Linked DNA regions of Homo sapiens: regions 1 and 2 are each linked to region 3. The links come from fine-mapping of genetic effects on gene expression. A gene starts in region 3. Each other region holds a variant in brackets. All regions are shown on one strand. Distances are between the middles of the regions.

The links. PIP is the estimated chance that this variant, and not a neighbour inherited with it, causes the effect. A credible set is the group of variants that fine-mapping cannot tell apart.
Region 1: its variant is the best candidate, but not a certain one, in a credible set for the expression of NCAPD3 in whole blood (INTERVAL, PIP 0.62).
Region 2: its variant is the best candidate, but not a certain one, in a credible set for the expression of NCAPD3 in monocytes (BLUEPRINT, PIP 0.83).

Annotation. Positions count from the first base shown.
Region 1 is chr11:134,191,137-134,202,104 of GRCh38, forward strand. NCAPD3 (non-SMC condensin II complex subunit D3) reads right to left here. Exons shown (of 35, transcript NM_015261.3): 14 at 3,529-3,602; 15 at 2,880-3,014; 16 at 1,553-1,773. Among named protein-coding and RNA genes, the nearest start is that of NCAPD3, 27 kb to the right of the region's middle. RefSeq lists a silencer at 6,954-7,154. The variant C/T (reference allele first, on the strand shown) is at 6,432.
Region 2 is chr11:134,142,610-134,153,259 of GRCh38, forward strand. It overlaps JAM3 (junctional adhesion molecule 3), which reads left to right. Exons shown (of 9, transcript NM_032801.5): 4 at 1,632-1,784; 5 at 2,183-2,385; 6 at 3,337-3,436; 7 at 5,938-6,067; 8 at 6,155-6,209; 9 at 6,537-9,392. The coding sequence ends at 6,572. It overlaps NCAPD3 (non-SMC condensin II complex subunit D3), which reads right to left. Exons shown (of 35, transcript NM_015261.3): 34 at 10,531-10,591; 35 at 7,504-10,443. The coding sequence ends at 10,335. It overlaps SNORD153 (small nucleolar RNA, C/D box 153), which reads right to left and starts at 8,754; the gene lies at 8,679-8,754. The variant T/TC (reference allele first, on the strand shown) is at 5,104.
Region 3 is chr11:134,217,879-134,227,360 of GRCh38, forward strand. NCAPD3 (non-SMC condensin II complex subunit D3) reads right to left here and starts at 6,089. Exons shown (of 35, transcript NM_015261.3): 1 at 5,985-6,089; 2 at 2,694-2,848. The coding sequence starts at 6,048. VPS26B (VPS26 retromer complex component B) reads left to right here and starts at 6,793. Exons shown (of 6, transcript NM_052875.5): 1 at 6,793-7,467. The coding sequence starts at 7,245. RefSeq lists enhancers at 6,530-6,579, 7,370-7,429, 7,530-7,679 and a silencer at 6,700-7,169.

The sequences.
Region 1 (10,968 bases), 26 kb before region 3:
TCCTTAAGCAGTTTCATCCACAACCTGATTCCAGGTTTAATAATGAGCCCATGTTTGTTTGTTTGTTTTAATGTCTCCTTAAAGACCTCTGAAATAAATGAATACCAAAAATAAGACAAAATTTTAAGCAACACTGGAAAATAAGAAGAGTTGCCATGAAATCAGAAGTCAAGAGTAATTTCAGAAAATGTGCAGCACGTGAGTTCTGGGCCACTTTTTTTCAAGTATTAGCCAACTTGGGCAGAGGTGGCTATCACCTACAATGATAAACAGAGATTGCATGGTGGTTACACAGGCATACTCTCTTTGTGATATTTACTGACCTTATGGTTTGTGTACTTTTCTAGACATGCTATACTTCAATACAAAAGTTTTTATAAAGAAAAATAAATTTTAAAACCTCCCAACAGCTTCTCAGGAGCTGTAGAAGGCCTCTCCTGCTTTTTTGCAAAGAATGACTACTACCTTTCATTACATTAACATGAATTAATACATAGAGCATGCATAAGGAGGTATCTCTAAGAAAAGTGAAAAAGCAGTAGACTCTATTATTAGCTAAATCTCTCCATTCTAGAAATCTCAGGAAAGCATAGGGTGGGTAGAGGTTGAGTATCACTCATCTGAAATGCTTGGGACCAGAAGTGTTTTGGATTCTGGAATATCTGCATATACTTAATGAGATATCTTGGGGATGGAACCAAAGTCTCATATACACCTTGTATGCACAGCCGGAAGGTGATTTTATTTTTCGCCTGCGGATGCTGAACAGACTGTATGCTGTGAGCCTGCATTCTCACTGTGACCCGTCTCATGCGGTCAGGTGTGAGATTTTCCACTTGTGGCATCATGCTGACATTCAGAAAGTTTCAGCTTCCAGAGCATGTTTGGATTTTAGATTTTTGGATTACGGATGCTCAACCTGTACTGAGAAAACCATGAAGAGATCCTAGAGTACAACGGCTGCTCTTACAAATCAGGAAACTAAGGCTCAGAGAAAGTGATTTTTGCCAAGGCTGCAGAATGGTATTTTTTGATACTAAATCTATTTTCTTTCTACCGCATGATGATTCCTCCATCACAGATCCTAACTCCTAACTACAATATTCACTGTACAGTGTATGTTCAATAAGTGTTATCAAAGGGGAAAAAGCCTGCAGTGTTAGTTAAGTCAATTAATCCAATGAGGTGTTAAAAACAGTTTAACTTGCAGGAGCTAGGAAGTCATCCTTCGTGATAACCAGTATTGGGGAAAGGTGATATTAATATGTATCTCCATCAGTGTTGTCTACTACATATGAAGACACCAAAATCTGAAACTGGAAAGCGTCAGACAGATGCAAAGGAAGTGACCAAACAGGTGTCACAAACATACAGGCGATAAAAATATCTAAGAGATTGGAAGTCAGTCAGGGAAAGAGAGACCAATACTTAATCTTCACATACACTAAGTAATCTGGAAAGCTGATTTTTCGAGGACCAATAGGAGAAATTTATTAATACAAAGTCCTACGGCCTTCTTCTATAGGGAACACAGGTCATACAGTTAACCTACCTCAGTTCCTGGCTTTCGGTGGTGAGGAGAGTAAGAAGCGCCCAGGCGAGGACCTGGCTGTCGTCCCCAGAGTGAAAATGACTGTGATGCCGGATGTTCTGCAGCAGCAGCTGGTCCAGGAACTCCAGGGCCTTCTCCTGCACAGTGCTCTCGCAGTCCATCACCACCGGGACCACCCCCCGCAACCAGGCTTTCTGGATCTGCACGCATCTAGGCTGAGCCTTAGGAGTGAAAGATTATGACATGAGAAGGTCTAAATACAAGTCAGGGAAGTTGTGATCAACATTTTGAGATGTTAAAAATAATCACACCTTCAACTGCAAATAGACCATAGAGTGAAAAAAGAAAAAAATTCAAAAAATATACAAAAGCAAAGCCAGCTTAATGTAAATCACTGCAAACCAAAATTTTAAACTCATACATTAAAGTCACTATTTTACTAGTAGCTACTAGTAAATCAGTACTTTTTTGGTCATTAAAAATCAAGAGCAAATAATAAATATCCCAAAGAGCAATTAGAACAGATGCTGACAGAAAAAGTCAAAATATGCATTGCTTAATGCCTTCTATTATGAAATAAAGAAATAAACATACTTCTAAAATTCTTTGACTAAAATGCTAACTAGTAAACAAAAGTAAATTAAATATAGTACTTGTGAGTCTGCTTTTTTGGCAATATCATCTATCTATGCCCTAATTGACTAAATTTAATCTAGGCCTCTAGCTTAACCAAATCAATTTTAAATTTTATTTTTCTGTGTGAGATTTAAAGTGAAGAAAAGGGCCGGGTGCAGTCACTCATGCCTGTAATCCCAGCACTTTGGGAGGCCAAGGCAGGCGGGTCACCTGAGGTCAGGAGTTCAAGACCAGCCTGGCCAACATAGTGAAACCCTGTCTCTACTAAAAATACAAAAATTAGCCAGGCATGGCAGCACCTGCCTGTAGTCCCAGCTACACAGGAGGCTGAGGCAGGAGAGTTGCTTGAACCTGAGAGGCAGAAGTTGCAGTGAGCTGAGATTGTGCCACTGCACTCTAAGCCTGAGAAACAGAGCAGGACTCTGTCTCAAAAATAATAATAATAACAATAAAGTGAAGAAAGGGCTAACAATTGGCATTCTCTAGCATTAGTTCCTAATTATGTTTAATAGGAAGCACAGTCTATCACACATAATTCAAAAATACCTCCTCCCTTACATTGTACAGTTCTACAGTGGACTTAGTAGAGTTTTTAAAGGTCAACTTAACGTTTAGCAGCAGGTAATTATTGTGTGGAATTACTTTTAATGTAAAATACCATGCATTACATATATAATGTCCTGCCTCTCACCATAAGGAGTTCAGTAAGAGACTGGAGGGCCTGCTTCCGGACAGACACTGCAGGGTCCCGACACTGGTCCTGCAGAATCCACAGGTCTTCCTTCATGCCTGAGACATCACAGTGTTTCAAAATACTCACTAATACCTAGAAGGCATAGACGCAACATGAACTGTTAACTGCATAGCATCAACTCACAAAGATAAACTGTTAACAAAGGAACACTTCCTTTAAGTTTGTGGTTCTTAACATTTTGGGGTCATGGATCCAACCTTCCTCCTCACAACATCCCATTTTTCAGAATCCAATTTGCTAAGGCCTCTCTCAGAGAAAAACAAATTTTATATAAACAAATATTTACAAACTATTTTATGAACCTATTAAAATCCACCCATGGTCCCTAGGTTAAGAATCCCTATTCTAAACAAATTCAGGATATAAATTTGTGGTTCTTAAAAAAATCAGAAACCCTGTAGGAAAGCTTAAAAATAAAAAATCTTCCAGTTCGTCTATGATTCATATACAACAGGATCAGGGTCAACTAACAGTTAGGCGAAAAGCAAATTAAGTAATGAATATGGCCTAAGAGTTTAAAAAATATTCCTTTGCATTTCCAAGTTTTTAGTGCTTAAAAAAAAAAATGTGCAGAGAAAACTCCCACCTGCAGTGCAGACTTCCTAACGTTGGTCTTCTCATCCCTGATCCTCCTTCTCAGCATTGCCATGACACATCTTTCTGTAGAGGGAATACCAAAGGGTCATCACAGCTGGAGAAAAGTCACACAGCAGCTAACATTTCACCACACAATACCCAGAAAATACACTCATCTTAAAGACTCATTAGCTTGTTTTAAATCCTAAGAAATGAGAGTGTGGAAAAAGAAGAAAATGTGAATAATTAGGTATTCACTGTAATGCATATAAACTTTGGAATATTAAAAATTTGGTTTTAAATCTCAGCCCCTACCTCTAAAATTGTGAATGAATTATTTATCTCTTCCATTTTGTTTAGCTACAAATAGGAGTATCTAACCCATAGGATTATTTTAAAGATTTGATGAGGTAATATATAACAGCAGCTTTAAAATGTTTGACTTGAAGACATTTTTTTATAAGAGACAGGGGTCTCATTCTGTCACCCAGGGTGGTGTACAGTGGTACAATCATAGCTCACCGCAATCTCAAATTCCTGGGCTCAAGTAATCCTCTCTCCTCAGCCTCCCAAGTAGCTAGGAATACAGGCATGAGCCACCATGCTAATTTTTTTTTATTTTTCTGTAGAGACAGGACCTTGCTGTGTTGCTCAGGCTGGTCTCGAACTCCTAGCCTCAAGTGATCCTCCCAACTCAGCCTCCCAAAGCAGTGAAATTATAGGAGTGAGCTACCACGCCCAGCCTTGAGGCTTCTTTATATTCTTAAAAATTACTGAGGACCCTAAAGAGATTATATCTTTTAATACTTAGAATCAGAAATTTAAACTGAGAATTGTAAAAATATTTATTAATTCATTTTAAAAGAGCAAGATATGTTACTGTTAGTACTTTTTCATAAAAAATAACTATATTTTCCAAAACAAATAAACTAAAAATAGTGAAAAGGCTGGATGTGGTGGAATGTGCCTATAATCCCAGCTACTGGGGAGACTGAGATCAGAGGATCAACTGAGCCCAGGAGTTCGAGTCCAGCCTGGGCAACACACCAAGACCCGATTTTAAAAAAAAAGAATGGCATTGTTTTAGAGTTTTGCAAACTTTAAAATGTCTGGCTTAATATAAGCCAGCTTATCTCTCATCTGGCTTATATTAAACAGGATTCTCATCTCTGTTTCTACCTGCAATCTGTTGCAATTTGATAAGTCATGGGACCACTGGAAAACTCCAATATACATTCGTGAGGAAATCAGAGTGTGGAAGGCAAATGAACACTGCACTCATTTTTACTTCAAGGACCCCTGAGGGTTCCCAAAACACACTTTGGGAACTGCTTATATATAAGAAGGCAGCTTAAAAAATAAAAGATGGAAAACAATAGAGAAAAATCAATGAAACTAAAAGTAGGTTCCTTGATAAGATCAACAAAACTAATACACCTTTAGCTAGACTGGCGAAGAAAATAAGAAAGAAAATTGAAATTGCTAAAATCAAGAAAGGAGGGACATTACTACTATTAGCCTTACATAAATAAAAAGGATTACAAAGGAATACTATGAACAATTTTATGCCAACAAATTAAGTAGCCTACATAAAAGAAACAAATTTTTAGAACGACAAGTTTTAGAAAGACACAAACTACAGAAACTGACTCAAACAGAAATAGAAAATCTGAATATACCTGTAACGAGTAAAGAAACTAAATTAGTGGCCAGGCGCGGTGGCTCACGCCTGTAATGCCAGCTCTTTGGGAGGCCGAGGTGGGTGGATCACCTGAGGTCAGGAGTTCAAGACCAGCCTGACCAACATGGTGAAACCCTATCTCTACAAAAAATACAAAAAAATTTGCCGGGTGTGGGGGCGGGTGCTTGTAGTCCCAGATACTCAGGAGGCTGAGGCAGGAGATTTGCTTGAGCTGGGAGGCAGAGGTTGCAGTGAGCCAAGACTGTGCCATTGCACTCCAGCCTGGACAACAACAGCGAAACTCCATCTCAAAAAAAAAAAAAAAAAGAAAAGAAAAGAAAGAAAAAGAAACTAAATTAGTAATCAAAAATACTTTACACACACACATACACACACACCCCTTCCTAAGGACCAGACACTTAGTGGAGAATTCTAACAAATGTTAAAGCAAAAATGAACAACAATCCTTCATGAACTCTTTCAAAAAATAGAAAAGAATACACTTTCCAGCTCATCTTAGGTGAGTACTACCCTGATAGCAAAACCAAAACATCTCAAGAAAACAACGGATATAGTTTGAGTATTTGTCCCCACCCAAACCTCATGTTGAACTGTAACACCCAGTGCTGGAGGCGGGGCCTGGTAGGGGTGTTTGGATCACTGTGGCAGATCCCTCGCAGCTTGGTGCTGTCTTCAGGACAGCAATACTGAGTGAGTTCTTGTGAGATCTGGTCATTTAAAAGTGTGTGGCACCTTCCCCCTGACTCTTTCTCCTGCTCCCACCATGTGAAACGCCTGTTCCCTTTTGGCTTTCTGCTATGATTCTAAGCTTCCTAAAGCCTCCCCAGAAACAGATGCCAGTGCTATACTTTCTGTACAGCCTGCAGAACCATGAACCAATTAAATCTCTTTTCTGATAAATTACCCAGTCTCACATCTTTTTTTTTTTTTTTTTTTTTGAGACAGAGTCTCACTCTGCTGCCCAGGATGGAGTGCAGTCGCATGATATTGGCTCACTGCAACCTCTACCTCCCAGGTTCAAGTGATTCTCCTGCCTCAGCCTCCTAAGTAGCTGAGATTACAGGCACCTGCCACCATGCCCAGCTAATTTTTGTATTTTTGGTAGAGATGGGGTTTCACCATGTTGGCCAGACTGGTCTCGAACTCCTGACCTCAAGTAATCCATCCGCCTTGGCCTCCCAAAGTGCTGGGATTACAAGCATGAGCCACCA[C/T]GCCTGGCCACGTATTTCTTTATAGCAATGCAAGAATGGCTTAATACAACAGACCAATATTCCTTATGAATATGACACCAAAATTCTCAACAAAATACCAGCAAACCAAATCCAGCAAGATACAACCATGCTTGGGATTTATCCCAGGAATGAAATGTCAACCTGTGAAAAATCAATCAATGTAAATTACAGCATGGTAACAGAACAAAGAAAACCACACAATCATCTCAAAATAGATGCAGAGAAAGCATTTGCAAATTCCAACACCTTTCCATGATAAAAACTCAGCAAGCTTGAAATGGAAGGAAACTTCCTCATATTGATGAAAGTCATACTAAAAACCTCACAGCTAACGTCGTACTCAGCGGTGAAGACCAAAAGCTTTCCCCCTAAGTAAAGAAAAAAGACAAAGAAGTCTACTCTTTGACTTCTTTTCAACATCATTCCACAGACTGTAAACCAAAAATAAAATTCTAAGGCTCTCCAACCATCTGAATGGACTTCCTCCTCAGCCAGGGCACTCTAAAATTTAACCTGAAGACTGGTTCAGACCATGACGGGATGTGGGGGTCAGACATGCCTCATTATACCCTCCAGCATTAACATCAACACAGTCTTTAAGTCTGATAAGAAACGTTTACAATCTATTCTCTCTGAAGCCTACTATCTGAAGGCTTCCTCTGCAGTAATGAACTTTAGTCTCCACCACCCTTTATCTTAACCCAGACATTCCTTCCTATTGAACCCAGTTCTTTAGACAAACTCAGCCAATTTTCAACAAGAAAAATTTAAAATCTACCTATAAGCTGGAACCCTCCCCACCTTGTCCCTGCCTTTTGGGACCAAACCAATGTATCTATTAAACGTATCTGATTGATGTCTGATGCCTCCCTAAAGTGTATAAAACCAAGCTGCACCCAACCACCTTGGGCACATGTTCTCAGGACCTCCTGAGGGCTGTGTCACGGGCCATGGTCACTCACATTTGGCTCAGAATAAATGTCTTCAAATATTTTACAGAGCTTGACTCTTTCTGTCAACAAATAGGTAAGAAAAAGAAATGAAAGATATCCAGATTGGAGAGGAAGAAGTAGAACTACCTCTATTTACAGATGACTTGTTCTTATATCAAGAAAATCCTAAGGAATCCACAAAACAATCATTAGAGCTCGTAATGAGTTTGGCAAGGTTGCAGGACAGAAGATCAATTATCAAAAATAATTTGTAAAAACTAGCAATGAACAATTCAGAAATGAAATTAAGAGAGCAATTTAATTTGCAATACTATTGAAAAGAATAAAAACACTCAGGACAAAATTTAAAGAGCAACAATGGTTCACTGAAAACTACAAAACATCACTGATACAAATTAAAGACCGAAAGAAATAAAAAGACATCTGGTGTTCATGGATTAGAGGAATTAACAAACGAACATGGCAACACTCCCCAAACTGATGTACAGATCAATCCCTATCAAAATCCAAGATGGCTTTTTTTTTCTTGCAGAAATTGGCAATTAATCTTAAAATTCATATGGAAATACAAGGGACCCAGAATAGCCAAACTAATTTTAAAAAAGAACAAAGGGACAGGAGGAGAACTCATACTTCCTGATTTAAAATTGACTATCACAGGATACTATGTTAACACCAAAATATGACTCTGACATAAAAATTATTTCTGGGAAGACAGTTAAAGCAGACAATTAACAAGCAGCAGCAAACAGAGAAAAAGCTCTGTCTATCCTTTCCCTTTTCTTTATTTATATGGGCAGTATATAAATTCTCCTTTACACACGGGGTCTCTGGACCCTTATCAGCCCAGAGCAATTCACAAAACTCACTCCATTGTTTTCCTCCCACATACAGGCAGTCCCTGACTTAGGATTTTCTGATTTTGCAATAATGTGACAGCAATGCACATTCAAACCATACTTTGAGTTTTGAATTCTGCTCACTTCCTAGCTAGTGACATGCAGAATGATACACTCTCACGATGCTGGGCAGCAAGAGTAGCTCCCCGTCAGCCACCCCATCAAAAGGGGACAACAGAGAGTCTCCAGTGTACTGTACTGCCAGCATTTTTTGGATATGGTGTTTTGTGTTACGTAAGTGGAGTTCTAAGCCCTCAGTTACTTTGCATTGAGATCTCTCCCGCATAACACGCACTAGACATGTTAATAAACTTGTTTGTCTTGTTATGGGGATCCATCCCGAGGAAGAACTCATGAGGACTGAAGAAAAAATTATTTCCCCTCTCCTACGCTAGAACGCAACGGCAATCAACACAATGTGGTACATAAAGACAGATATATAGATTAATGAAATAAAATTCCATTAATATAGAATATAGAGCACACAAATAAGCTCATGAGCTTATACAAGTCAGTCAAGTGATTTTTTTACAAGGGTGCCAAGACACTCACAGGTGAAGGAACAGGCTGAAAGAAACAGTGCTATGTCAACTGGATAGTCACATGCAAAGGAGTGAAGGTGGACCCCCTATATCACACCATATTCAAAAATTAACTGAAAATTGATCAAAGACCTAAATGTGAGAGCTAAAACTATAAAACCCTTAGAAGAAAACACAGGAGTAAATCTTTGTGACTTTGGATTACACAACGATTTCTTAGCTATGTGATACCAAAAGCATGAGTAAAAAAAGAAAAAGATAAATTGGACTTCATCAAAATTAAAATGTTTTGTGCCTCATAGAATACCATTTGAAAAGACAACCCACAGACTGGGACAAGTCTTTAAAAATCATATATCTGATAAGGTATATATATAAAAATAACTCTTTCAACTCAAAAATAAAAGATAACCCAATTAAAAAATGGGCAAAGAGCTTGAATAGACATTTCTCCAAAGAAAACGTATGTATATGGCCAATAAGCCTATGAAAATTTACTCAACATCATTAGCCATTAGGGAAATGTAAATCAAAACCACAAGCAGATACCACCTCATACCCACAAAGATGGCTAAAATAAAAAAGACAGACATGGCAAGTGTTGGTAGGAATGCAGAGAAATAGGATTATCATACGTTGCTAGCAGGATTGTAAAATGGTGTGGCCACTTTGAAAAAGTGTGGTGGTTCCTCAAAATGTTGAATATAGAGTTACCATACGACCCAGCAGTTCTCCTCCTAGGTATACACTCAGAGGGAATGAAACCACACATCTATACAAAAACTCATACAAGAATACTTACAGCAGCATTAGTCACAATAGCCAAAAAGTGAAAACAACCCAAATGTTCATCAACTGATGAATGCATAAACAAAATGTGGTGTATCCTTATAACTGACTATTACTCAGCACAAAAAGGAATGAAGTACTGATAGATGCTATAACATGAATGAGCCTTGAAAACACGCTATAGGTGAAAGAAGTCAGACACAAAAGACAACACAGTACATGACTGCATTTATGCGGAATGTCCAGAATAGGCAATTTTTTTTTTTTTTTTTTGGACAGAGTCTCGCTCTGTCAACAGGCTGGAGTGCGGTGGCGCAATCTCGGCTCACTGCAACCTCCACCTCCTGGGTTCAAGCGATTCTCCTGCCTCTGCCTCCTCATAGCTGGGACTACAGGTGTGTGCCACCACGCCCAGCTAATTTTTTGTATTTTAGTAGAGACGGGGTTTCACCATGTTGGCCAGGATGGTCTCGATCTCCTGACCTCGTGATCCTCCTCCCGTCTCGGCCTCCCAATGTGCCAGGATTACCGGTGTGAGCCACCACGCCTGGCCCAGAATAGGCAATTTTATAAGGAAAGAAAATTACTGGTTGCCAGTGTTAGGAGGAAAGGGGCATGGGGAGTGACTGCTAATGGCTATGGGGTTTATTTTTCAGCTGATGGAATGTTCTGGAATTAGTCTGTACAATCTTGTGACTATACTAAAACAACTACATTATACACTTTCCATGGTGAACTTTATGGTGTGTGAACTCTGCCTTAATAAGAAAAAGCAAAGAGAGCAAAGTGCATCTAAGTGACTATACAAAATTTTTAATGTACAATTAATGCCAACAATATATGTCCTTTCAGCTTATGAACAATGCACTGGAAACATGGGCTCTTTGCGTCCCCGAACTTTCATAATTTTTAAGCATCATTAAATCACCTCAACTTGATATTGCTTGAAAAAGTCTGTGCCACCGTAAATCCGTAACCTGTTTAGACGAAGTCTGGAGCCAACACAAACATTCAGCATTTTTCCAGAGTACATTTTCCTACCACATTTAGAAAACCTGTTTATTATAAATGTAGTTATCGCTCTGAATTGGAGTAATACATGCTAATATCTAGCCTCCTGAACCCAATTTCACGCTGACCTTCTAGGCTGAATAATAAAAGCAGTAATGTAATCATCCTCAGGGCGCTTTCTGTGCATCTCGGCACCTATCTCAGTGTTCCGCATACATGTGTGCACAATTGTATATATGAGAACACTTGTGTGCACAAGCACCTGTCTCTCCACTGATCCTTAAGAGATGGAGCTCTGTCTCACAGACTTGTGCATCTCCAA
Region 2 (10,650 bases), 75 kb before region 3:
GTTTAAAATGTTTTTTTATGGAGCTGTAATTCGTACCGCATCCTTTTAAAGTGTGCAGTTCAGGGGTTTTTAATATACTCACAGTTGTGCAACCATCACCACTATCAAATTCCAGAACATTTTCATCATCCCACAGAGAAAGCCCGTACCCAGCAGTAGTCAGTCCTCCTCCCGCATCCCTGGCAGCTCTGATTCCACTTTCTGTCTCTGTGGATTTGCCTGTTCTGGACACTGGATAGAAACTGTGGTCTTCCATGGCTGACGTCTTTCACTCAGCATCCTGTTTTCAAGGTTCATCTGTGTTGTAGCCTGTGTCCGTACTTCATTTCTTTTCACGGCTGAATAATGTTCCATTGTAGATATACCACATTATTTTACCCATTCTATTGATGGACATTTGGGTTGTTTCCACTTTTTGGCTATTATCAGTAATGCTGCTATCAGTATTTGTTTACAGGTTTTTGTGTGAACCTAAGTTTTCATTTCTCTGGGATAAATGACCAAGAGTACAACTGCTGAGTCTTACAGTAGTTGCATGTTTAGTTGTTTAAAAAACCGACAGAGTGTTTTTCAAAGCTGCTTTACGATTTTACACTCCTACCAGCAGTGTATTTTCCCACATCCTTACCAACACTTGTTATTGTCTGACTTGTTAAGTTCTAGCCATCTTAGTGGGTTGGAAGCGGCGTCTTGTGGATTTGATTTGCATTTCCTGGTGACTAATGATGTTGAGGGTCTTATTTGTGTATTTTCTTTGGAGAAATGTCTGTTCAAATTTTATGTCCATTTAAAAATATTTTTTTTTCTAGAAACAGGATCTCACTGTGTTGCACAGGCTGGACATGAATTCCCAGGCTCAAATAATCCTCCCACCTCAGCCTTCTGAGTAGCTGAGACTATATGTGTGCACCACTGCACCCACCCTTATGTCCAGTTTTTAAATTAGGTTGTCTATTTCTTACTGAAGTGTGAATTCTTTATTCTGGATGCTAGGTTGGATGTACGATTTGCAGGTATTTCTCCCATTGTGTGGATTGTTTTCACCTGCCTTTGTCCTTTGAATTTTGATGAAGTCCGGTGTAACTGTTTTTAGTGTGTGCTTGTGCTTTTGGTGTCATATCTAAGAAACCATTGCCCAATCCAAGGTCATGAGGGATTTATGCTTATGCATTTTTCTAAGAGTTTTATAGTTTTAACTCCTATGTTAGGTCTTTGTTGTATATGGAGTGAGAGAGAGGTTCAACTTCATGTGTTTGCAAGTGGATATCAAGTTATCTCAGCATCATTTATGAAACATTGGTTGTTTTTCTAGTGGTGTTTTTTTCTATTCATGGGCGGTCCTTCCTGGAAATGAGGAGGAGGAGGTGAAGTTCCTGGTTTTAATGACGGAGACACATGGTAATGAGTGTGTCTTGCACACCAGGAACTATTTTTGGTGTTTAGGTTACAGATAGGAATAGGTCATGGTTCCTGTCCTCAAGAGAGTTCACTTCTGTACTCGGGAATAGAAATAAATATTGATCTGCAGGCTTCCTTGCTGTGGCATCTAGTGCTAGCCCCAGAAACCACCCTCTTCAAGTGGCAAAGATTTCTTTAAAGAAGTTTTTTAGTGCCTCGTGTCTTTTCTGTAGGAGACTTGGCGGGTCGTGCAGAAATACTGGGGAAGACATCCCTGAAGATCTGGAATGTGACACGGAGAGACTCAGCCCTTTATCGCTGTGAGGTCGTTGCTCGAAATGACCGCAAGGAAATTGATGAGATTGTGATCGAGTTAACTGTGCAAGGTAGGAGCTCATGCGAAGGTGAGACATTGCCACCATAGGATGCAAGAGATCAGTTAGTGTCTTGGTTTCTTTCCTTCTAGAACTGTATCCCTGAGGGCTTCACATGGCTTAGGGAGGGGAGAACTGTTGAGAGCTGAGACTGCCTGAGTTGGGGTAGAAGGTGAGAAGGGAAGTGAAGTTCCTGTCACTTCCTTCCACCAGCTAGAGGAGGCGCTTTAACATATGGGAGGGCAGGATGCAGCGGTGGCTTGTCAGTCTGCAGTTGTGATCCTGGGAACAGCAGTGGCGTGGGAACCCCTCGACTGGCTGTCTTGTCTTTGGAGCTGATTTCTTCTGGGCTTTAATAAGAATAGAGCCCTGTCACTGAGATCTTAAACACCACCCCTTTTTCCCCACAGTGAAGCCAGTGACCCCTGTCTGTAGAGTGCCGAAGGCTGTACCAGTAGGCAAGATGGCAACACTGCACTGCCAGGAGAGTGAGGGCCACCCCCGGCCTCACTACAGCTGGTATCGCAATGATGTACCACTGCCCACGGATTCCAGAGCCAATCCCAGATTTCGCAATTCTTCTTTCCACTTAAACTCTGAAACAGGCACTTTGGTAAGATCTCTTCTAAGAGGTGAGGATGGAGATGTCTTTGTTGGGGCAAGAGATGCTTATTGTGAAAAGAAGATTAGGAGAGATACTGAAACTTCTTGATAAGACAGGAGTCAAAAATCTAGAATGTTAGGGATTCTACAGGAAAAATGACCCTTCTTCCTTTTATAAACAAGTACATTCTTAGGGGGTAAAATAAGGAAGAGAAAGAAACCATAGATTGAGACCGAAGAGGGATATTAAGCAAATGTTACTAGGGCCCTGATCGGATAATCAACTGTAAAAGTCATTAGACAATCGGGGAAATTGGATTACTAGGTGGTATTTGATGATCTATTAAGCAACTGTTCATTGCTTTAGGCATGATGAAGGTATTGTGGTTACGATTTTTTACAGTCTTGTAGAGATACTGAAGTATTTATGGATAAAAGGTGTTTGGAATTTGTTTCAAAATAACCCAGTGGTGGTGGTGGGAGGTGGGGGAGGAGAGGAAACAGATTGGTCATGCACTAGAGGACAAAGTGACCTGGCCAGCAAACCACACCAGGCTTTTACTGCATGTGGTTCTCTCCTGGGAGGTACCTTCTGATCTGTGGACCATCCAGTTCCACGTAGTCATCAGACAGATTTTAACAGGGTCCTCTGTGTTCATTTTGCCAAAATGTTGCCCCAGGAGCAGTCATCATTGAAGAGCCCTTTTACCAGAATAAAAGCAAGGTTCCACCTCCCATTTCGGATGTTGCCAGGCTTTGGTGTCTCCAGTCCCAAGGGGATTGGTTGTTGGGGAGCTGTCAGGCAGGTATCAGGGAGTGGGTCAGGGAGGAACATGCACAGTGCTGGGGAAGCTGAAAGCAAGCGAGCAGGTGTCGACCTAGTTCTGGACCCAGCTGGCTGTGCTCTCAGAAATCGGCCCCATGATGGGTCCGATTATTTACTTGTCATTCCCTGAAACAGGTGTTCACTGCTGTTCACAAGGACGACTCTGGGCAGTACTACTGCATTGCTTCCAATGACGCAGGCTCAGCCAGGTGTGAGGAGCAGGAGATGGAAGTCTGTGAGTTTCTTTTTTGAAGAGGTTTCATCGCAAGACTGGGAAGTGAATAGAACATTTTAATTTAATATTATACCATCAGCTTAGAGAACTCTTCCGCCATGGGTTAGCTTTCTTCTGGAGCTGCCTAGGTCCACCAGAACCCACTGCACAGTGAAGGGAAGGCTGAGAAAACCGAGTCCAGATAAGCAGGTCCTCAAAACAAAACCTTCTGGGATCTGCTGGTGTTGGGAACGTGGCCAGCCTTGCAACTTTCACTGCAAGTTTAGTAAACTCCATTCTTTGGTAATTGATAGAATTATCAAAATGTAAGGTGGTGTCAGGTCTCCAGAAATTTATCCAGTTATAACCCTCTTGTAGAAAACTGACAGTTTTAGCCCGAGTAATTTTACCTGCAGACAAAGCTTAGCCCCTAGAGTAATGTTATCTCAGGGCTCTGGTTCCCCTAATGGAGGGGCGTTGAGAGGAGGGTGGGGGCAGAGAGGATGTGTCCAAATCACTTGGGGAGCTTTTTTTTTTCTTAAAAAACAAAAAACAAAAAACACCACAGGGTCTTGCTTTGTTGCCCAGGCTGGAGTGCAGTGAGTGCAGTCACAGGTCACTGCATCCTCAAACCCAGCCTTCAAGCCATTCTCCCACCTCAGTCTCCTGAGTAGCTGGAACAACAGGCACACACCACCATGCTCAGCTAATTTTATTTTTTGTAGATACGGGGTCTCACTGTGTTGCCCAGGCTGGTCTCAAACTCCTGGCCTCAAGCAATCCTCCTGCCTCGGCCTCCCCCAGGTGCTGGGATTAACAGGCATGAGCCACTGTGCCCAGCCAGGAGCATTTTTTGAATCCTTCCCTCCTCCCTATTTGGAGCTCTCCTCAGAGCAGCATTTTCCAAAACTGCCTGGTGATACCCATTTGGGACCACTGTTTCACATACAGATTCGAGCCCACCTCAGACATATGCTAGAAATGTCTGTGTGTGAGACAAGCGTTCCGAAGGATTCTTCTCATGTGTCACGTTTGAGAAACTCTGCTCTAGGGTTGTTTTCTCCTGCAGTTTTGCCCCAGACCTACTTTAGCCTATTGACTTTTTAGTGATGAAACTTGGGAATTGACATTTTAACATCAAAATTGCATGCCAGGCGTGGTGGCTCACACTATAATCCTAGCACTCTGGGAGGCTGAGGCGGGTGGATCACCTGAGGTCAGGAGTTCAAGACCAGCCTGGCCAACATGCCAAAACTCTGTGTCTACTAAAAATACAAAAATTAGCCTGGTGTGGTGGCAGGCGCCTGTAGTCCCAGTAACTTGGGAGGCTGAGGCAGAAGGATCCCTTGAACCCGGGAGGCGGAGCTTGCAGTGAGCCGAGATTGCACCACAGAACTCCAGCCTGGGTGACGGTGACGGAGCAAGACTCTGTCTCAAAAAAAAAAAAAAAAAAACGATTGCAAGTTTACTTTTTGTTTTTGAGATGGAGTCTCGCTCTGTCACCCAGGCTGGAGTGCAGTGGCACAATCTCGGCTCACTGCAAGCTCCGCCTCCCGGGTTCACACCTTTCTCCTGCCTCAGCCTCCTGAGTAGCTGGGACTACAGGCACCTGCCAACACGCTCAGCCAATTTTTTGTGTTTCTAGTAGAGACGGGGTTTCACCACCTTAGCCAGGATGGTCTCGAATC[T/TC]CTGACCTCGTGATCTGCCCACCTCGGCCTCCCAAAGTGCTGGGATTACAGGCGTGAGCCACCGCGCCCGGCCTGCAAGTTGATTTTTAAGTGTACATTCATCTTTGAGAACCAATACACTAGGATAAAGGAGATTTTTTTAAAACTTCCAAGTTACTTGGCTCTTGTTGATAAATTCCCTGCATAGTTTTCCATGTGTCGCTTGCTTGAAGGAACGGCTGCCAGAGCCCCATATGAAAGTGACCCAGTGCCTTTGCCCAGTGTATAGACATGAGAAAAGGGTTCCAGGGGGTTTCCTCTCAGAGGGCTTATAGATCGGAGGTCAGGCAGCCGGCAGAGACAAAGCTCTAGTTCTTACCTAGGATTCTTTACTTGTTTGTTTTTTGAGACAGATTCTTTAAGGCTTGAAGCTACCTTTCTTCCCCGCAGCAATCTGCAACAAAGGGAGGCCCTGGAAATTAGGGATTCTTTTCTTCTTGGGATCCTGGCTCCTAATCTTGTCCTCATAACCATTTCCTCCATAAGTAATCTCAGGCATTCAGCCAGAGGATTTTTAAGCCTACAGTGCCAAGCCCACTTTAATACACTTTTCAGTGCGACTGCATTTCAACTGTAGAAGTCTCAGTACTTTTCACGTGTGAAGTTAGGAGTTATGGTGTCCTATATGTTCTAGGCTAGAAGGATTGTAAGTGTTCTCTCTTCTAGCTGGGGTAGGCCTGAGGGGGCAGGGGGCAAGTGGGTTTGGGGTGAAGGAAGGAGGCACAGCAGGGCCAGGGCCTTTTTAAATAACAGATAGTGTGTATCATGGCTTCCACCAAACCTCCTTTTCTTCAGATGACCTGAACATTGGCGGAATTATTGGGGGGGTTCTGGTTGTCCTTGCTGTACTGGCCCTGATCACGTTGGGCATCTGCTGTGCATACAGACGTGGCTACTTCATCAACAATAAACAGGATGGAGAAAGGTGAGCCTGCCTTATGTGAAAAAAGGGAAGTTCAAGCTGGCAATAATATAACAACCCTGTTGCTAAACTGCTCTCTTCTCCTCATAGTTACAAGAACCCAGGGAAACCAGATGGAGTTAACTACATCCGCACTGACGAGGAGGTAATCATTTAGTAAACCTGGAAACCTAGGTGTACCCAGCAGGGAAAACAACATTCCCCCTTGGAAACCACACGGGTCTCCTGGGAAGATTTCTGAGTGATTGTGCAGCTCCTGAGCTCCTCAGCCCCTTCACAGTAACACACACACACACACACACACACACACACACACACACACTAATGGGATTTGTGCTTTGCAAGCGCTAGTGATGGTACTTTTTAAGAATGATTATTCCATCTGTATTTAGCCCATGTTAGACTTACTCCGTGTTTTTCCCTGCTTGCCACCAGGCCCCTTGATGGCTCTAACTGTGTGTTGGCTTTGCAGGGCGACTTCAGACACAAGTCATCGTTTGTGATCTGAGACCCGCGGTGTGGCTGAGAGCGCACAGAGCGCACGTGCACATACCTCTGCTAGAAACTCCTGTCAAGGCAGCGAGAGCTGATGCACTCGGACAGAGCTAGACACTCATTCAGAAGCTTTTCGTTTTGGCCAAAGTTGACCACTACTCTTCTTACTCTAACAAGCCACATGAATAGAAGAATTTTCCTCAAGATGGACCCGGTAAATATAACCACAAGGAAGCGAAACTGGGTGCGTTCACTGAGTTGGGTTCCTAATCTGTTTCTGGCCTGATTCCCGCATGAGTATTAGGGTGATCTTAAAGAGTTTGCTCACGTAAACGCCCGTGCTGGGCCCTGTGAAGCCAGCATGTTCACCACTGGTCGTTCAGCAGCCACGACAGCACCATGTGAGATGGCGAGGTGGCTGGACAGCACCAGCAGCGCATCCCGGCGGGAACCCAGAAAAGGCTTCTTACACAGCAGCCTTACTTCATCGGCCCACAGACACCACCGCAGTTTCTTCTTAAAGGCTCTGCTGATCGGTGTTGCAGTGTCCATTGTGGAGAAGCTTTTTGGATCAGCATTTTGTAAAAACAACCAAAATCAGGAAGGTAAATTGGTTGCTGGAAGAGGGATCTTGCCTGAGGAACCCTGCTTGTCCAACAGGGTGTCAGGATTTAAGGAAAACCTTCGTCTTAGGCTAAGTCTGAAATGGTACTGAAATATGCTTTTCTATGGGTCTTGTTTATTTTATAAAATTTTACATCTAAATTTTTGCTAAGGATGTATTTTGATTATTGAAAAGAAAATTTCTATTTAAACTGTAAATATATTGTCATACAATGTTAAATAACCTATTTTTTTAAAAAAGTTCAACTTAAGGTAGAAGTTCCAAGCTACTAGTGTTAAATTGGAAAATATCAATAATTAAGAGTATTTTACCCAAGGAATCCTCTCATGGAAGTTTACTGTGATGTTCCTTTTCTCACACAAGTTTTAGCCTTTTTCACAAGGGAACTCATACTGTCTACACATCAGACCATAGTTGCTTAGGAAACCTTTAAAAATTCCAGTTAAGCAATGTTGAAATCAGTTTGCATCTCTTCAAAAGAAACCTCTCAGGTTAGCTTTGAACTGCCTCTTCCTGAGATGACTAGGACAGTCTGTACCCAGAGGCCACCCAGAAGCCCTCAGATGTACATACACAGATGCCAGTCAGCTCCTGGGGTTGCGCCAGGCGCCCCCGCTCTAGCTCACTGTTGCCTCGCTGTCTGCCAGGAGGCCCTGCCATCCTTGGGCCCTGGCAGTGGCTGTGTCCCAGTGAGCTTTACTCACGTGGCCCTTGCTTCATCCAGCACAGCTCTCAGGTGGGCACTGCAGGGACACTGGTGTCTTCCATGTAGCGTCCCAGCTTTGGGCTCCTGTAACAGACCTCTTTTTGGTTATGGATGGCTCACAAAATAGGGCCCCCAATGCTATTTTTTTTTTTTAAGTTTGTTTAATTATTTGTTAAGATTGTCTAAGGCCAAAGGCAATTGCGAAATCAAGTCTGTCAAGTACAATAACATTTTTAAAAGAAAATGGATCCCACTGTTCCTCTTTGCCACAGAGAAAGCACCCAGACGCCACAGGCTCTGTCGCATTTCAAAACAAACCATGATGGAGTGGCGGCCAGTCCAGCCTTTTAAAGAACGTCAGGTGGAGCAGCCAGGTGAAAGGCCTGGCGGGGAGGAAAGTGAAACGCCTGAATCAAAAGCAGTTTTCTAATTTTGACTTTAAATTTTTCATCCGCCGGAGACACTGCTCCCATTTGTGGGGGGACATTAGCAACATCACTCAGAAGCCTGTGTTCTTCAAGAGCAGGTGTTCTCAGCCTCACATGCCCTGCCGTGCTGGACTCAGGACTGAAGTGCTGTAAAGCAAGGAGCTGCTGAGAAGGAGCACTCCACTGTGTGCCTGGAGAATGGCTCTCACTACTCACCTTGTCTTTCAGCTTCCAGTGTCTTGGGTTTTTTATACTTTGACAGCTTTTTTTTAATTGCATACATGAGACTGTGTTGACTTTTTTTAGTTATGTGAAACACTTTGCCGCAGGCCGCCTGGCAGAGGCAGGAAATGCTCCAGCAGTGGCTCAGTGCTCCCTGGTGTCTGCTGCATGGCATCCTGGATGCTTAGCATGCAAGTTCCCTCCATCATTGCCACCTTGGTAGAGAGGGATGGCTCCCCACCCTCAGCGTTGGGGATTCACGCTCCAGCCTCCTTCTTGGTTGTCATAGTGATAGGGTAGCCTTATTGCCCCCTCTTCTTATACCCTAAAACCTTCTACACTAGTGCCATGGGAACCAGGTCTGAAAAAGTAGAGAGAAGTGAAAGTAGAGTCTGGGAAGTAGCTGCCTATAACTGAGACTAGACGGAAAAGGAATACTCGTGTATTTTAAGATATGAATGTGACTCAAGACTCGAGGCCGATACGAGGCTGTGATTCTGCCTTTGGATGGATGTTGCTGTACACAGATGCTACAGACTTGTACTAACACACCGTAATTTGGCATTTGTTTAACCTCATTTATAAAAGCTTCAAAAAAACCCAAACATTGCTTCATTCTTTGTTATTTGCTCTTACGTTGGGTTTGTCTCTTCTTCCTAGCATTTCAGTGGTTAGGCATGCACACTAAAAATGCTATCAATCACCCATCCACCAGGGAAGTCAGTGCTGGGCAGGAGGTCAGCCTGTGTGCTCAAGAGCAGTGCTGCGCCTCTCCGCCACCGAGCCCACCTGTGTTGCGGTTCCCACTTGGGATGGCAGTGGGCAGATCTCAGTGGCATCCCATCCCCCAAACCAACCAACGCACATCATCACTTTGTACTTTTGCTTTTGTAATACTGGGATTAAAAAACAAACCAACTGCATTTCTTTCTGGATATTGTTGAACAAAAATAGCATTCAGTTTACCCACTAGTGCTAACAGAAGAGACTCAAGCTGTTCCCCCATCATGGGAGCAGCCCTTAACAGAGGGCTGCACAAATCGGCAGTGCTGCTCTGGGGAAGGCTGCAAAGCCATTTTTTCCCAAGAAGGGATGCTGTTCATGTCTGTTAGGGAAAGCACACCGCCTCTGCCTGGGCACAGATGAACTGCCCTTCAAGACAATCATCTTTTTTCTAATAGGGAAGATTTGGTTTCATTCCTCTAACAAACAAACATGCTTTATGTAAAATTAAAATGATTACCAATAAGAGCTCTGTTCTAAAAACAGAAAAATCCTATTGACTACTGGAAGGCTGTATTTATGCTAAACCTTTATTACTTTTAGAAAGCTGTACACTTTTTTAAAAAATTTGCACTTATAAATAATAGAAAAAATATTAGAATCAAAATTTCGTCATTACAGATGGGAAAATATGTACTATAAGGAATTCAAGTTAACAGAGGCTTGATTTATATAAAAGAAAGCTGCAGTTTTAAAGTTGTGTTCCTTAAAGACCAGATTATAGCTTATCTGAATGGGCTTGACACTTTCAAATGGAATAAAGTTACAATATTAAACAGATTAGGGTAAGAAAATCTAAATCTGGCACATCTCTATTATTTGACAGTGTTTAACCAAATACATCATACAGAATAGAAGGTGAGTGCCAGGCCCCTGAGGAGGAGCTCTCGTGTTCCACAGCAAAGCGCTGCCCAAGGACTGCGGGAAGTGATCCAGCTGCCTTCACACGGAGGACACGAGACTGCTTCCTCAAGGGCTCCTGCCTGCCTGGACACTGGTGGGAGGCGCTGTTTAGTTGGCTGTTTTCAGAGGGGTCTTTCGGAGGGACCTCCTGCTGCAGGCTGGAGTGTCTTTATTCCTGGCGGGAGACCGCACATTCCACTGCTGAGGCTGTGGGGGCCTAGGGAAAGGACATGTGCAGTCATTCTGGAACTCAGAAAAACCCTGACAGAAACATCCACCTCAAAAGGAACACTGCTAAACTTACGGTTTATCAGGCAGTGATAAACATAAGATGTCATTTCCTTGACTCCGGCCTTCAATTTTCTCTAAAAGGGAGTCAAACAAACACATTCAGCTTTCCCAGAACCTCAAAGGCAGTGCATCT
Region 3 (9,482 bases):
GCTTGAGCCCAGGAGTTTGAGAACAGCCAGGGCAACAAAGCAAGACCTTGTCTCCACAAAAAATAAAAAATTAGCTGGGCGTGGTGGCACACACCTGTAGTCCCAGCTACTCAGGAGGGTGAGGTGGGAGGCTCATGTGAGCCCAATAAGTTGAGGCTGCAGTAAGCTTTGACTGTGCCACTGCATTCCAGCCTGGGTGACAGAGCAAGACCCTGGTCTCAAAAAAAAAAAAGGGGGGGGGGGGAAGAAATCATCTCCTAACTTTACAGTGTCACATCCTCATTCCTAATGCCACCTGCACCTCCACTTCACACACGAGGGTGATCGATCACCCTAAACCATCTGCTCACCAGGGCTCTGCATATGGGGTCACCTTGGCCCCATGTGATCCCATGGCTGCTGTCTAGTCTGGGCGTCAGTGACCCTGCACTCCCTACATGTGACTGCTCCTCTGCAGACCCCGTCCAATCAGCTCTCCATTTCTGTCCTGGCTGCTTCTCACCCTCGGTGATCTCATGCATCACTGTGCTTCAACCCATACCTCAATTTAAAGAACTCTCTTCTCTCTCCTGGTCTCACATTTCTACTACCTGTTAAACTTCCCAAGGATCTCCTGACAGAATCTCAAGTTCAGAAGTCTAAACAGAACTGTTTCTCCATTTGACCTTGCTCTTTTTCCCTTATTCCCCACCTTGGTTAACAATATCATCATCTTCCTAGTTTTGAAACCCTGGGGATCACTGACTTCTTTCTTTTTCTAATTCCCTATGCCCAGTCAGTTTAGCACTTCACACCATGTTTTTAAGATATCTCAAAAGGGCTTCCTAGTTCACAAGGCCCTATTAATTCTAATTCCAAAAATGTCCCTAGTTTTTAGTCTTCCTTTCCAGTTCCCAAAATTGTAACTCCGGATCATGCCATTATTACTCATAACACCTGGATCACCAATACAGTCTCCCAAGGGCTCTCCCTGCACACAATTTTTCCCACTTCAGTCCACCTACTGTCAAGAACGTCTGCTTAAAACAGATCTATTCATGTTACCTATCTATTGCCCACTGTAACCTCTTTCACACAGGCTGCTTGAGGATTAAATGAGTTAATACATGCAGGACGCTTAGAACAAAACCTCATACACACTCTACCAAACATGTTCAAACTCCACTGCTGAACCTCACGTAAAGCTACCCGTGACCTACCCTTACTCTACCTTACCATCCCGTTCCACCACACTTTTTCTGTATGCCTCTTGACACTTCCTGCGTGTTCCCATTGGGTGGCTCCTTCACTAGGACTGCCTTACAACCCAAGCTTCTGCTAGTCATCTGTGAAGATTCGCTGCTGGCCACTTTCTTTCTGGAACTTTCCCAACCCTACCATGCTCCCTTTTTCACACCCTATGCAACAAATCCGCACCTCTCTTGGAGCATTTTTCACAGTGTGGTTCGTAGAATATTTCCAGGCGCCCAAATGCACAGTGGCACTGAACTCTCCACCCCCTGCAACTGCATGTGGCTGCTAGACCTACTTTGGCTAGTGTTCAAATGTCCACTCTTCCTCCCTGAGGTCCCTGGGGAGGACCTCAACCTAGGGAGATTGTATCGTAATCCCCACTCTGTCAACTCAGGTACTTAAGGCAGTGCTTAGTGTTATGCTGAAGGAATGTTTAATTAGATGATTTAATTTTGTGATGTGAAACTTGGAAGTGAATTTTTTTTTGTTCATTTAAATGTTTCAGAGATGTTAATATCCAATTAGCTTTTGTTCTGTTTCCCAACCCTTTGGTTTTTTTTGAAAACTAACAACCTAAATATTAATAATAATTTATATTTCTATGCATTGGATAGAACTCAATATTTACAGGAACTGTTTGGACAAACCTGTTAATTCAACTAGTCATTCCTCAGTTTAATAATATCAGATTTTCTTTTTTTGTGAGACAGAGTCTTGCTCTGTCGCCCAGGCTGGAGTGCAGTGGCGTGATCTCGGCTCACTGTAACCTCCGCCTCCTGGGTTCAAGCAATTATCTGCCCCAGCCTCTCGAGTAGCTGGGATTACAGAAGCCCGCCACCACAACCGGCTAATTTTTGTATTTTTAGTAGAGATGGGGTTTCACCATCTTGGTCAGGCTGGTCTTGAACTCCTGACTTCGTGATCCACCCACCTCGGCCTCCCAAAGTACTGGGATTACAGGCATGAGCCACCATGCCTGGTCGCAGATTTTCTTAAAGTTAAGGTTAAGGCATGTCTGAATTGTTATTTGCATTTTCCTTGGTCTAGTTTTCTTGTTTTTGCCTTTATATTTTTCCTTTTTTTTTTTCCTTCTGAGATGGGGTTTTGCCATGTTGCCCAGGCTAGTCTCAAACTCCTGAGCTCAAGCAACTGGCCAGCCTCAGCCTCTCAAAGTGCTGGGATTACAGACGTAAGACACCACACCCGGCCTTATACTTTTCCTTTAATTTGCTATTGTAAAAAACAGTCGTGTCTTAAAAAAAAAAAATCAGACAAGTACCTTGAAGCTTTTGGAGGAAAGCTCTTAGGATATTCCAATAAATTAACCACATTCTTTATGTTACTCATATTGTACTCCCTGTGAACTGTACACCAAGAAAGCTAAGCTTCAGATTATAATAATGACTTTCATCTTCTACTTCTAACACCAAACTTTGGCTAGTTTGTTTTTATATTTTTACCTCCATAGATCCATGTTCTCCAGTAGCAAAGGGTAAAAGGCTTTCATAGAGTTTTGTGAATGCAGCCAATCCAGTCTCTATGATCTCTGCTTCTATGCTGGGATCCAAAGGCTCAGTCTCTGTGAAATCCAGTTCCCACACTGTGTCAACCCATTCTAGGGGAAAATGCAATGAAATGTGTAAGTACTCTGTAACAAGTAAAAAAACTAGTCACCTTTAGATTCCAGGTGTGTTCAAGAGGAGAAAAGTTTACTAGTCACGATTCACATTTAACTTGTTTTAATAACATAGGTGTAGCATAATAAAAGAAAACCAGAAAAGGTTAAGAGAATCTTAAATCACAACTGACACTGACTATTAAGCTAATCATCTTCTAAAAATATAAAGGAGGAAATACTTTTCAGATACAAGAGTTTTGGGAAAGGACACTTCAAAACATTCAGTGATCAGGCTTTCCCACATGTTCAATCTAGAGAAGAAACAGAGGTTAATCAGATTGCCCACGAGGTTCCTTTGTGAAAATATCATAACCAAGTTAATAAGTGGAAATAAAATATAGAGCACTTTATTGGGCCCTTGGACAATCATGTAGCATTTAAAAAACATATATAATTTCTCCAGGAAGTTTAAAATAGAAGAGGCAACCCAGATTCAGACTCCCAGGAATACTTGGTGACTTTAAAACACACTGATTGAAAGAATGTACATTGAGAGGAGGGGTATTAAGACAGCACGCTGGCTGGATTCCACCAATCTCTCTTAACTCTAAATCTTCCCATTCTTTTCTTTTTCTTTTTTTTTTGGATAAACTTTTTTTTTTAACTTAAAGTTTTTGGGTACATGTGCACAACATGCAGGTTTGTTACATAGGTATACACGTACCATGGTGGTTTGCTGTACCCATCAACCCGTCATCTACATTAGGTATTTCTCCTAATGGTATCCCTCCCCTATCCCTCCATCCCCCCTTCCCATTCTTTTCTAATACACTATATTTCTTCAGTGTTGTCATTGTCACTTTCCCAAACTAAAATTAGGACTAGATGGAAATGTGGACATCTCAAATTATTAATCAGGTGTTCCTTCAAATTAATATTAAAAGTATTTGTTCACCACTGATTTAGAGAAGTTGGGCAAGGTATAAATAAGGAAAAAACAGAGATGGGAGCATTACACTGCACTCGGCAAATGAAAATGAAAGGCCTTACACTCAACTAGTTCCATCCTTAGAATACAATCTGGTCATCATCTTTTGTCACTTGAACTTGACCCTGAAGGAGGGGGTCTCTGTACCCTAAGTGGCTATGCACAGCATTCCTTCCAAAGACATGGAATATGCTGCCTGAAAGAAGATCTGAAAAATACAATTGTTTCTTTCCAAATTTCCAGTAATGTTTTAAAGGTCATTATAGACCACAGCAAAAGTTATCTCACTCCTTCTTTTGGTTTTGCTTATGACAGTTCCCTACTGTAAATACCATCAAATCTAATTTGGATGGCAGTAACTGGCCCTGTTATCTACCATTTGGTCACAGAAGTCTTCAGTGTTGATTGTTGAGTGAGAGTATAGGAGACACTGAGTTAGTCTTTTTCCCTCAGTATCTTTACACTATTCAAATCTCTCACTACCTATTTTCTCAGCTGTCGAATGCAGGTAACTTCTGCTCTGCTACTTCACTTAGGATGGAAGAAGAGGAAGAAATACATCACCTATTCACTCAACAAACACTTTGAGAAAATACTAGGGAAGCCACTTATACTTCTAGGGATATAAAGATGAATACTAGAGGGTTCTTGTCCACAAAGATCTCAACATTTCACACTTAGGATACCAAAAAAAGCAGCCTATGATAGAAGAGAGGCCACTGAATTTTGAGTCAGAACGAGGCAAATATCCTGACTTGATCACTTACACATAATTAGTCTCTCCTTCATCATTGGAAATACAGGATTTTTGTGAAACATAATGTGTATAAAGGCCCTAACAATGTGCTAGCCACATAAAAAACAGTCAATAGATGGTATTTATTATTTTTGCTATGGATGAGTGTTAAAATAATAGATATGTAAAATGTAAAATGCTACAGAGCTTAATAGGGAATAGTACTGGGGGAGGAGGGAGAGGAATAAGATGATTCTTCAATTGGACCTGAATGTAAGAGTTTTGCCAGGCAAATAAATGCAGAAAAGTGCCTCCCAGCAAGCACAGTGTAACAAAGCACACAAAGGGAAAGAAATTAAAGTGTTTCTAAATGAACAAAATTGTTACAGTGTTTGCTTGTGGGTATTAGTATCTGTTCAGCAGTTATTATGTGGCAAGTACAAATTTATCTTTACAAAAACCCCTGTGAGGTAGATATTGTACTCCCCATTTGACAGATCAGAAAACAGGGGTTTAGCAAGGATAAACAACCTGCACGGTAATACATGGATGCTATGGGGTAGAGCCAAGGGAACAATCCAAGTGTGTCCGACTCCAAAGGTTATGCTCTTGGAAAATCAAACTGGAGAGAATGGCAGCTCTTATAAAGCATGCCAAGGATGTGGTCATTTATTTAGGAAACAAAGGGGAAACATTAAAGGTGTACAGGCTTGACACATTCAAAGCTGTGTTTTCAAAAGTCGTTCTGCAAAAGTGTGGGGGATGGGCTGGCACAGTTAACATCAGAAAGCAGCTAAAATACTCCTGCAATTGCTCGAGGCTATGATGAAGGCAGCAGCATCAGGAATGGAGCGGGGCTGCCCTGAGACACCTCAGAGGCAGGACAGTGGTAGTGGGCATGAAAGGGGAAGCAGAAATGCCATGACTCCTGGGTTGGTGGCTTGGATGGTGCCATTAGCAGGCTTTGGGAATCCCATTTTCACTCATGTGACGTTTGATGATGTCTGCATGTGAGACATCCAGTGGAACCTATGAACATGAAGTTCAAGAAATAAGTCTGGCGGAAGAAAGAGATTTGCAATTTAAAACCATCTTAATAGGTAAGAATAGATAGGTGCACGAAGACACGCACAGGAAGAAGGGGAAGGCCGAGAAAACAGATGCACAGGCGCTAGAAGAGACTGGCCAACATTCGCTTATTCTAAGGGTGGCCTGGCCGGCTTGAGCCCCCACGGGAAACCTGGCTAGCCGCAATCCTGGCGTGGCACGGCCCTGGGGACCCCAGGCACCGCCGACAGCCGGGCGCCCCCACCCCGCCCCCACCGGCACCCCGGCCCGGGCTTAGGCATCGTCGGGGACGCATAGGACCCTCGCCCTGGCCCCCGGGCCTCCCGGCTGCATCTGCTCACCGAGTCTAAGATCCAGCGGACACCAGGGCTGCAGGCCGCTACCAAGGCCCCGCAACGCCACCATGATCCCAGGGCACCGGCTCGCCGCCGCCGTGCTCAACTTTCAAAGCTCGCTCCCGCGCGCGCGCCGAGTCGTTCCTGTGGACCAATCACAACGTACAGAATTTCCCACTGGCCAACCACCGCGCCGAGCCGTTTCCATTCGCTCAACCAATCACCGGCGTCGTCCGCCGCACGCTCAGAGAACTGGGCGGGCCGAAAAGTGGAAGCCAAACAAGGCTCCTGCGGGTGTTCCGCTAATTCGTTCGAGAAGGAGCCAGGGCCTGAGTTAAACCCTAACAGCGTTTTTCCCGCCTCGTTTTTCTTCAATGGGGGAAAATCTAAAGGGTATCTGAGATAGGGTACTTCCGGTAGTAACTGTCACCTTTGCCCTCGTCAGGCGACATTTCGCGTGCGTGTCAAAGGGCTGCCTTTCCCGTCAGCACTCGAACAGCGTAATATCCGAATGTGAAAGGCAGCCCAACGTGTATCGAGCTAAAGTAATAAGGGAAAAGTAGCCGAAAGCACTCCGAGAAGACAAGACAACTGCAGTTCTGTAGGGACTGCGCGGCACGCGTGGGCCCAGAGCCTGTCCCAGCGAGGTAGCAGCTGCCATGCCGACCGCTGGAGCGCCGGCCGCGCTCTCCCTGCGCATGCGCAGCGAGCTCTCCTCCGGGCTGCCGGGAGTCCCAGGAGCGTTAGGGGGTGCGCCTGCGCGCCGCTGCTCCAGCGCATCCGGGCTGGAGCTCGCCCGCCCCCTCCCCCGCCCGGAGCCGCCGAAGCGCCTCGGTGCGTTGCACCGCCGGAGGCTGGGCAGCTCGCAGCGCTGCTCGGCGCTGGACCCCACCCGGCAGGCGCAGGCCACCCACACCCGGCTCTGTGCGGCTGCCCCCCGCAGCATTGCACGGCCGACCCTCGCCCGCCCACTGCCACCGGCCGCGGGACTGGCTGGGACTGGCTCGGCCGAGGGCACTGCTCCTCGGTGCATTGCTGCTCGGGCGCCGCAGCCCGCAGCCGCCAGCCTCCCCCGGCCGTGCCCCTCCCCCGTGGAGCCGGCTGTCCGTCGGCGCCCACTGCCCGGCGGCAGCGGCGGAGCCAGGCAGCCCCGCGGCGGCCGAGCGCGCTCGCGCATCGGGCCCTCTGGCCTTCTTTACCTAGGGCAGCCCGCGCCCCGGTGCGAGGGAGCGGTCCTTACCGAGACCCGCCCGGCCCGGCGGTGCGATGAGCTTCTTCGGCTTCGGGCAGAGCGTGGAGGTGGAAATCCTTCTGAACGATGCAGAGAGTAGGAAGCGGGCCGAGCACAAGACGGAGGACGGGAAGAAGGAGAAATATTTCCTCTTCTACGACGGGGAGACGGTCTCCGGGAAGGTGAGCCTTGCCCTCAAGAACCCCAACAAGCGGCTGGAGCACCAGGGCATCAAGATCGAGTTCATCGGGCAGATCGGTGAGTCGACCCCCGGGACCCCCTCCCCCAGCGCCGACAGCCGGCCGGGGAGCAGGGTGATTCAGGGCCCAGCTCCTCCGGCGAGGCCTGTCACAGTCGCTTGTCAACTGCAGTCTGAGGCCTGGGGTTCAGCTACAAGTCCCGCCCGTGGGCGACTCCCCCTGCGTTACTGTCCTCCCTGCCAAAAGTGACAGCGCGCTGCCAGGGAGATGGGGACGGCGAGGGCGGGAGGAAGCGCCCTGCTGTGCCTCGTGGGATGGGCACCTTGCCTATGGGTTCTCCCCATTGTCTCCGGCATGCACTCGGCTTTGCTTCTTGTCCCCAGGATTTCTGGGTGAGGTGCTCTGGCCATAGCCTGCAGGTGGGTTTGTTAGGGGGAGACCGCTCTGCCAATACTGGCTTTCCCATCGCCCGGCCATCTGCAACTGCCAGACGCAAAGTGAGGCTCGTCCACCGAGCCCCACTTCCCAGAGCCCGCACCAACCCGTTTTTCTCTTTAGATGTGGTGTGAGAGAGCTAACCAGTTCTCTCTTACCTCACCTCAGCCCTGAACTACCTATGCTTGTACATGTTTCCAGAAAGAAGACCCATAATCTTCAGTCTAAATCTGACTACCTAGGCTGCGTTTCTTAGACTTCTTTATTAGAATGCAAGTTTTCAGTTACCACATTTTCTGTTTAAAGACAAAGAAATGGTGTTTCTAAAAACCACAATTAAGTGATCAGAGTTTCTCAATGCTTTAAACATGATTATTAATCATTGGAACTAGACAGCGCCAGGCACAGTGGCTGATGCCTACAATCCCAGCACTTTGAGAGGCTGAAGTGGGAGGATTGCTTGAGGCCAGGAGTTGGAGACCAGCCTGGGCAATATAGCAAGACCTGCCTCTACCCCCAAAAATTTTTTTGTAATTAGCTGGTCGTGGTGGTGCTTGCCGGTAGTCCTAGCTCCTCGGGGGGCTAAGATGGGAGGATTGTTTGAACCCAGGAGTTCCAGGCAGCAGTGAGCTGTGATAACACCACAGCACTCCAGCCTGGGTGACAACCAGCAAGACCCTGTCTCAAAAAAATAAACAAATAAACAAATAAGAACTAGACAGTAAAAGGCAGTAATGGTAAAGTGATTTGGGGAGCTCCCAGTCAAGACTGGGTCGTCTCCAATTCTAAGCCTTATTTAGACTCTTGTGTATTATTAAAATGCTTGGGTACTTTTAAAATAAGTTGTTTTTGTCGTTAGGTTAGGAGTAGAATCACAGTAAATACCCTGTGAGCTACACACCTCTGGTAGAGAATCCATACCGATACCACACACTGCATACATAACTCTGTTTTTAGAGACTTCCTTGGGGAATCTTTGTTAAACTCTCTTATCCTGAGAGTTTAGCAAAGAATTTGCCGTCTTTTTTTCACAGAGGCAGGAAACACGGAGACACAGGTAGGAGAAACCCTGGGAAAAGGAGGCCTTGTGGCCTGGCTCTTGGGTTCACTGCTCAGCCTCAAGCATTTTGCCTCTGGTATTTAAGAACATGAAATCAGGTTGAAGACTGGCTGATCTTACAGGAAGCTCTTTGTTGTTATTTTAAAGCCAGAATATGAAAGGTCTTAGTGTACCAGAAAAGGGGCCGAAGAGTGAGTTCCATGCCTTCTGCTTTCCTGCTTCTGGGTTCAATGGTGGGGTAGATGGCAAGGTTCCTCAGTAGCAGCACTGTGATGTCTGGCATCGTTTGGCATGTTGTCATGGGATGTTTAGCAGCATTCCCAGCCTCTACTGACCAGACAACAGTAGCATCCCCCACTTGCGACCACAAAAATGTCTTCAGATATTGCTGTATATCCTCTGGAGGGTAAAATCATCTCTAGCAAAGAACCCCAGGATAAACAGGATGAGTCCAAAGCATATTATGCTACGCATAGTAAATAGTCGAGAAATCCTTGCCTATTGAGCAAGGTATTTTTTAGTAGCAGTTTTAAAGTTATTGCATTGATTCTTTGGCTCCATAATAATAATTAGTGTTG